Linked DNA regions of Homo sapiens: all the other regions are linked to region 1. Evidence: fine-mapped expression QTL. A gene starts in region 1. Each other region holds a variant in brackets. All regions are shown on one strand. Distances are from middle to middle. Region 1 holds the start of TRIM36 (tripartite motif containing 36). Region 2 overlaps PGGT1B (protein geranylgeranyltransferase type I subunit beta). Region 3 overlaps PGGT1B (protein geranylgeranyltransferase type I subunit beta).

The links. PIP is the estimated chance that this variant, and not a neighbour inherited with it, causes the effect. A credible set is the group of variants that fine-mapping cannot tell apart.
Region 2: its variant is the best candidate, but not a certain one, in a credible set for the expression of TRIM36 in whole blood (INTERVAL, PIP 0.60).
Region 3: its variant is the best candidate, but not a certain one, in a credible set for the expression of TRIM36 in whole blood (INTERVAL, PIP 0.82).

The regions. Positions count from the first base shown.
Region 1 is chr5:115,168,785-115,171,548 of GRCh38, forward strand. TRIM36 (tripartite motif containing 36) reads right to left here and starts at 1,124. Exons shown (of 10, transcript NM_001300759.2): 1 at 824-1,124. The coding sequence starts at 850. RefSeq lists silencers at 300-389, 1,120-1,539.
Region 2 is chr5:115,241,676-115,244,439 of GRCh38, forward strand. All of the region lies in intron 2 of PGGT1B (protein geranylgeranyltransferase type I subunit beta), which reads right to left. Among named protein-coding and RNA genes, the nearest start is that of PGGT1B, 20 kb to the right of the region's middle. The variant GAA/G (reference allele first, on the strand shown) is at 1,290.
Region 3 is chr5:115,208,172-115,210,935 of GRCh38, forward strand. It overlaps PGGT1B (protein geranylgeranyltransferase type I subunit beta), which reads right to left. Exons shown (of 9, transcript NM_005023.4): 9 at 1-2,764. Among named protein-coding and RNA genes, the nearest start is that of TRIM36, 40 kb to the left of the region's middle. RefSeq lists a silencer at 1,088-1,197. The variant G/A (reference allele first, on the strand shown) is at 1,302.

The sequences.
Region 1 (2,764 bases):
AAAAGAAAATCTTGTCCGGGATATCCAAAATAGGTTCTTACATTCCATTTTATGTATAAATATGGTCAGTTCAGGTTTACTTGTCACTGGGGGAGGATCTAAAATCATTTCCATTTTCTTGTACATAAAGCAGTGTCTTGAATCTGACTTTTTAATCACAATGGACATAAAGTATTTCTTACCCAAGAGAAAATTTAGTTCATCTGTCATTGAGGGAGAAACAAACTGATTAAGTGTGATGTGGCGGCTCCCTCAATTAAGCAGTTCCTCGAGAAACTTCGGAAGAATTGCACATTCGACACCTTTAAACAAAAACACTTGTAGGCTGACAGCTGCCGGGGCCCCGGCCCGCCCCCCGCGGGCAGGCGAAGCCGGGGAGGAGCCTCTGGCCCAGGCGGCGGCAGCCGGCCGGGCCCGCGGGGGTCAAGACGCCTAGACAAAGGGCGGCCCCGCAAGCGCGAGGGACGCGCCCCAGCTTTCTGCCCGCACCCGACTCCCAAACGCTAATTAATTCTACAGCCTGAGCTCCATTAGAGAGACCCTCCATGATTCCCCCGAGGTGCTCAGGTGGGCAACCATCGGATTTGCGCTCTTCTCCGGCCCAGGGGACCCCACGTCCGGCTCTCGGGGATAGAAAGGGGACGCCCCGGATTGCGGAACCTAGCCCCGGGCGGGAGAAGGCGAAGAGGAAGCGGGATCCCCACACGCCTGCCTTTGCTCTCCCGGGAGGAGGCTCCCTCCGGGCTCCCGGCGGAGGAAAGAGAAAGAGCCGCGGTCGGCACACCGCCCTCGAGGTGGGGGCGGCGGTCCCCTCCGCACTCACCGGCGAATCTGAGCCATCGCCCTCCATGGCTGCCTTCTGCCAGGTGTCATCAGCGGCACGTTCCACTCACACCGGCTACCGAGCGCAGGGTCTGGTGGGCGGGTCCCTGCGGCGGCCGTGGAGCCTCGGTCCGAAGCTGGAAGATGAGCTGGTCAGCTGTACGTGGCCAGCGGACCGACGCGGGGAGAAGTAAGCCGGGGCAGGCAAAAGCACAGGCGCGGGAGAAGCGAGCTTTGCTCCCAGCGACTACCCCGGGAATCCCGCCCAGCTGCCGGCTGCAGCAGCGGCTCCTGCGGACTGCGGCTGGGAACGGCGCCGCGCAGAGACCTGGGCGGGGCACCGCGGGGCGTGGACAGGGCGTGGCCTGGTCGTTGCCCAGGCAACAGCGCCAGTCGCACAAAAGAGGCGGGGCCGCCTGGGGCTGGTAGGCCGGGTGTCTGAGTGGTAGGCTGAGCGGGACTCGGCTGGGCGTGGGTGTGGCACGCGGTTGGGACTCGGCGCCCTCCGCCGCCACCTTCCCCCTACGCATCAGCCCCTCCCTCCCACCCGGGTAGTCGCCCGTCGCCCTATGCCAGGCTGGGGGGCTCTGAGGAACGGAAGTGAGGGCAGCGGGGAGCGGTGGGCGGGTGCCGAGGGCGGCGCCGGGGCGGGGAGGCTCCGCTGCAGCAGAGCAGCCGGCTGCAGCCCTGGCCCCTGGCCCCTGGCCCTGCGCTGCCATTCCGCCCTTCAGTTTGCTCTCACTGCGCTTTCTTCACTCGCGGTTCGAAGCCCCGCTTCCAGGCTCGGCACAGGACGGTGCGGGCGAGGGCGAGCCTAAGCCACCTTCCCTGAATGGCCGCGGCGAGCACGGCAGAGCTGCGCGAGGCGACCAGAGTGAGACCCCGCCCGCCCTCTCCGCGGTCCCTAGCCAGGCGCGGCCTGGGGTTCCCTGGCCCCGCCCGGCTTGTCCCAGTTCTCTTCTGGCTTCACTTGCTGGGTGAACTTAATAGTCCCTGACTGGGCACCGAGCAGTCATATCCCGCTTTCTGCTTCTATACCCCCAAGTCGCGATGTCACCGCACGTTCTTGCCCAGTAGCGCGGGGACCGCCTGCAGGGTGGAGATTCCTCTCCCGGATGCTGGCCAGGGACTGAAGTTAAAAGGCCGCGGCAAGGGAGAGACCCCCCGCCACCCGGGCCTACGCTTTCCTTCCTGAGGGCCAGGACAGAGGGTCCTGAGCGGCTCCGGCACCCCCGCACCCCCGCGGGGAGTGCTGCTGAACGTTAAGGCGCGCGCCAGCTCAAGGACTGGCGGCGCACATTTCACCTGCCACGGCCCAAGTGTGTTTCTGGTGTTGTTTTCAGGACACACGGAGAACAAATTAATTTAGGATTATTAGATCACGCACTGCCTTTCTGGCTAGCTAAACAATTCATTCCTATGTATTAGGCTTTAAGAACAGATGCCCTAAATTGCTGGGTAAGTAGGGACTACAGAGCTGTAGCGAGACATCTCGTTTAGGTTTTAAAATGCTTCCCACTTTTATTTCCTGTTTGGGAGAAGTCTGTCGCTGTGGCAAGTTCCGTCGTCTTCCCACAGCCCTGTCTGCAGCGGTAGCCTCGTCTCCAATCCGGCATCTAAATAAGGAGTGTAGAATTAAAAACACTGAGGGACTATAGCAATTTTCTCTAATGGAATACCCTCCATTTACAGATGAGGTGAACAGAGGACGAAAGCTTTGCCAGGTAATAATGCCTGGGCTGTTCTGATCCGGATTAATGCCCGTTGCGTGGCCGCAGGTGCTAGACTTGGGAAGGCTTCCTTCCCACAGGTTCTGAAAAGTGCTAATCAGGAGGAGACTAACAAATGCCTGCGTGAATTAGGTGCCTATATATATATACATATATTTAAAGGCTCAACCATTAGAAAGCATTATAAGTCTTTCTCATACTGGCCTTTGAGC
Region 2 (2,764 bases), 73 kb after region 1:
TACACAATCTTTCAGAAACAGACTATTTTAGTCTCCATTTTCATACTGGCTAATGCTGAATGCTTACCATGTGCCAGGTCCATTCTAGGTGCTTATGGGAATTTCCTCATTTAATTTCCATATGAGTCACAAAAAACATAATTATTTCTATCATGTACCTTTTTTTAATAGCCCACCTCACTGCCTATACAGTCCTTTCATACTTCTCCTGTCAGATCAATTTTTATGTGATCAACATGTTCAATCCCCCTTTCTACAGAACAGAAAACAGAAGCCCAGAGGTTAAGTGATTGTTCAAGGTAACGGTTAATAACACAATAGGGTCTACTGTCTTTTTACTTTAACTCATTTAGTGTGTTTTTACTTTAACTCATTGCTTCTTTACATGGGAGCAAACTAAAGGTTTAAAGCTGAAGAGAAAATATGTACTTTGTATTTCCACATTAGCTAGACCTTCGTTCTGAGTCCAGTAATCCACTTGGCTTTGAAGTATGTAGAACACTGTAAGTTAGCACTTAGTCTCTCTCTACTCAATCAAAATATGTTTATCCATACTTTTTTTCTATCTAAAAATTTTCATTTCTCAAGATATCAATGGAATATAAGTTGGGAACTTGAAAGAACAATCAACTATACAACAATTATGGTTTTAATAGCTATTAGAAAATCAGTATGATAGATGCAGAAAATAACAATGCAGTATCAGCAGACTGTAAATGCACCGCTGATAAAAAAAAATCGAGTTGGTCTAAAAATAGTCTCTGATATGAAGAACTACCTTCATAAGAGATTATGACTAGTGTATGACTAACTTCATTATTAACTGTTTTCACTCTCCTACTTCTGCATTAGGTACTATATTTTTTCAGCTTCTTATCCCCCCAAAAAACTTAAAATAGTAGCTTATACATTAATTCTTTGAACAAATTAGGAACCACTAAATTTAAACTCTCCACCAATTATCATCTCCCTACTGGCGAAAAATGTATTTTAAAAAGATACTAGCAGCCAGGTGTGGTAGCTCACGCCTATAATCCCAGCACTTGGGGAGGAGGCAGAGGAGGGCGGATCACCTGAGGTCAGGAGTTCCAGACCAGCCTGGTCAACATGGTAAAACCACATCTATACTAATAATACAAAACTTAGATGGGTGTAGTGGCACCTGCCTGTAATCCCAGCTACTGGGGAAGCTGAGGCAAGAGAATTGCTTGAACCCGGGAGGTGGAGGTTGCAATGAGCCAAAATCGTGCCACTGCACTCCAGCCTGGGCGACAGAGTCAAACTGTCTT[GAA/G]AAAAAAAAAAGATACTAATGGTGATTATGATTTCAGTGATTATGGTTCTCTTATCCTAAGGACTTTTAAATTGGTAAGCTACTTAAAACTTGCCAATATATAACAGAAGTTATAAAAACACTCATATCCTTTTGACCCAGTCAAATTATGGTTCTCTTATCCTAAGGACTTTTAAATTGGTAAGCTACTTAAAACTTGCCAATATATAACAGAAGTTATAAAAACACTCATAACCTTTTGACCTAGTCATGATATATCTGAGAATCAATTCCAATAATTTCAAGTATGAGAAGAAATGCACACTGCAGTTTAATAATAGTGAAAATCTAGAAGCACCATAAAAGTCCAGCAGGTTAAGCATATCATGCCTCATGTACTGAAAGAAACGCTATATTCCTATTAAAAATAATAATCAGTAGAACTATGTAGCAACACAGAGAAATGTATTTGATCAAGTTAAGCAAAAAAGTAGGATCCAAAAATAAATGTGCATTTTTATGTTTATAATTAAGCAAATGGCACATATCAACAAAGACTGGAAGGGAATAAACAAAATAATATGAATGGTGTGAGATGATATGAATAAGGCTGAAATTTGTTCTCTGTATTAGTCACTGTTGCCATAACATATTACCACAAACTTGGCAACTTAAAACACCTACTGCCTTACTGTTTGTAAGGTCAGAAGTCTAACACAGGCATCATCAGGCTAAAGTTAAGGTGTAGGCAGGGCTACCTTCCTTACTTGGAGGCTTTGGGGGAACAATCTGCCTCCAAGCTCATTCAGGATGCTGGCAGAATCAACTTCCTTGCAGTTGTGTGACTGAGTTCTCCATTTCTTTGCTGGTAGGTATCCCTTTTTGCTCCTAGATCCTCTCTTGCCATTTCTCATATATGGGCCCCATATCTCAGAGTGGCAACGGCACTCAAATCTTTTCCATTAGACCCTCTCTACCTTCTCTTCTCTCTTCTGCTCCCTTTCTCTGCAATTCCATGACGAACGTTTCTGTGTTCGTCTGCTGTTCATGTGATTATACTGAGCCCACCTGTACACATGTCACCTATGGATAAGCTCCACATTTTAAGGTCAGTTGATTAGTATAACTTTAACTCCCATCTACACAGTCCCTTCACAGCAGTACCCAGATTAGTATTTGACTGAATTAACAGGGAACAGAAATCCTGGGGCAACATCTTTAGAATTCTACCTAACACAGGTTGGGCGCGGTGGCTCATGCCTGTAATCCCAGCACTTTGGGAGGCCGAGACGGGCGGATCACGAGGTCAGGAGATCAAGACCATCCTGGCTAACACAGTGAAACCCCGTCTCTACTAAAAATACAAAAAATTAGCTGGGCGCGGTGGCGGGCGCCTGTAGTCCCAGCTACTCGGGAGGCTGAGGCAGGAAAATGGCATGAACCCGGGAGGCGGAGCTTGCAGTGAGCTAAGATCGGGCCACTGCACTCCAGCCT
Region 3 (2,764 bases), 39 kb after region 1:
TTGGTACCATCTTTGTCAGGTTTTTGAATCAATGCTATTACATTCATTTTATAAAATGAATTCAGGAGTTTTTCTTTATTTGTTTTTTTTCTTTTTTTGGCACTTTGAGGTTCAAGATTCTTTTCCTAGTCTCTGCAATTGTTTAAGCAAGAATGGGATTATTTAATCTTAAAAGGTTTGGTAGAAATCCCCTTGAAACAATCTGGGCTTGATGCTTCTTTTGGTAAGGGGTACTTTTAACTATTTGTTTCTTCTACGGTAATTGGTTTGTTGTGACTTTATCTACCTAGAGTAAATTTTGGCAATTTGCATTTTTCTCAAAATAGTTTTTGAATTTATTGTGTAAAATTGCTCAAAATAGTCAATTTAAACAAATTTCCTGTTTTACTATTTCCCCCTTGTCATTTAAATTTTTGTATTTGTGCTTCCTCCTTTTTTTCTTAAATAGGTTAGCTGGTAGTTTATCTGACTCAACTCCCCGCACTACCCATCACCAACTTGGATTTATTATTGCCTCTATTGTTTTGGTTTTCTACTAGTAATTCTTTTTTGCTTTTATTAATTCCTTCCTTCTGCTTTATTTTGCTTTTTACTCCAAGTGTTTGGTACTTGGTTAATTTTCCCCTTTTCCTACTTTTATTGATAACTGTACTAATTAATATAAATTTCCTGTCATATTTGCATTTTATTTTTTGGCAAATATTAGGTTTTTATCTGTCTTGTGGTCATGTCCTTCCGGTGTGCTTTCATTGTCTGTGAGGATGTTGATCTATTTATTCTCTTATTTCTTATACTAACTTTGACTGGAGTTGGACTGTAATCCTGGCTCACTTACTCTTTTTTTCCCCTTAACTGAAATGAGTTTTTCTGTACTTTTAGGAGGAAGGAGTGGCTCTAGGATGACTTCACAGCCTTAGAGCTCCCATTTTCACAGTGATTTAAAAGAATATATATATATATGAAAATACACATATATAATGTCTCTGTGTCTTGGCCTTTCTTCCCAATACTTATCTAGATCTTCTTTCCTTTGTCCTATTTTACCCATCCTGCCCATTTGGATTCTAATTCTAGAAGTTTGTCCTCAGTGCTGGGCTTTGTCTCATAAGCTTCAAGAGGTACACAGCGTAAAACCCAGACAGCTCTAATGCAATCAGCAGACCTTATCATATTGCTTTAACATTCATCTGCAAATGAGATTCTGTAGTCACTTCCCAGTTTCAGTGTCTGTTCTTAGATTGGCCCGCTGCACTTTGTAGTTGAGAAACTGTGGGCAGTGTTGTAGTTCTCCAATTTGCAGA[G/A]CTGTCAGAAACCAGCTGCCTTCCTTCTACTTCCTCCCACAGATACTGAAACTATGTGGTTCAGTGGTTTGTCCTCACTTAGTTGTATTTTGAAGTTCATAGAGATACCTTGTCATCTAGCGTTGTAATAGTGTCTGTGGCTATCCTAGTTGCTCTGTATTCTTATGGGGAGATTAGAAAACAACACTGTTGTCATCATTTTCCCTGAGGTTAAACTGTTAAGACCTCTTTCTGTTGTAGAAGAGAGGTTTTAATTACAAAAATAATTTTATGATCATTATAAAGAACCTATAATTTGAAATTTGCTGTATTCCAGGTACTATCCTAAGTGCTTTATCTGTATTATCTCATTTAATCCTAAACCCTGTGTGTTAGGTTTTACCCTTATTTTATCCACGGCAGAGTTAGGGTCCAAGATCATGCTGCTGAACTGGCAAATCTGGGATTTAAACCCAGGTCATCTGATTCCAGAGCACCTCCTCATTAACTGTCTCTCAAAAATGATCAGGTCCAACAGTTTTCAAATTATATACCACTGTCAGCAAGATTTCTATATGAATTTAGATTAAATATAAATAACTAAAGATCTAATAACACATATATATTATAGATCAAATCTAAAAACACTGAAATGATAAACAGGTTAAATTAGGCCATATGATCTGATTAATCTCATTTGTACACAGATGCTCAAAATAAAGCTCCTCCTCCTACCTTCTAAAAAAAAAATGCCACAAAATTAGGGGGCGGGAAGGAGACAAGTATAGAGTAGGTAACAGAGCTTTTTGAGATTTCGGACTTCGTATTTTCCCTCATTACATCGCTCCTGTTAAGGAATAAAGTGTATATGTGAAATATTGCTTATAATTTATTTAATCGATAAATGCTTTTCTTGTAAATAACTATTTAGAAAAGTTAGAAATAGTTTCTCCACAATTCACACTGGGCTGCTATTTTCTGGTCAATTCAGTTGCTGTGGAATGTGAACATTTACTAGTCCATAAAGTTTCACAAGAAAGTCTCCCACAAGTGTATCAATTAGAAGCATACTAAAATTTATAATCTTATGGTATTAAATTATCAGGAGTTAGAAAATATTTAGCCTTATGAAATACTTTTAGATTGGAATTTTTCTCTAACATTTATGAATAAAATCACTGTTACTACCTTTATTGCCTTCTAACCTTTCTTGGTGATACAGAAAAAACAATTTGGGCTTTTTATATAGTCCTAAAGCCATTATATATATGCTACTTTAACTTCCAATGTCTAAGAGATGACTTAGTTTGAGATATGGATGTCTTAATCTGCCAGGATTTAAATAGTAGCAACTGGAATAACCCATAGACGGATAACATCTGTTATTAAGCTTACTTTTTCCCCCACCATCAGAAGATTTATTTTATTTCTAATTAAAAAACATACAGTTGGCAAACTCAGGTTTAAAACTAAGCATGCCAATA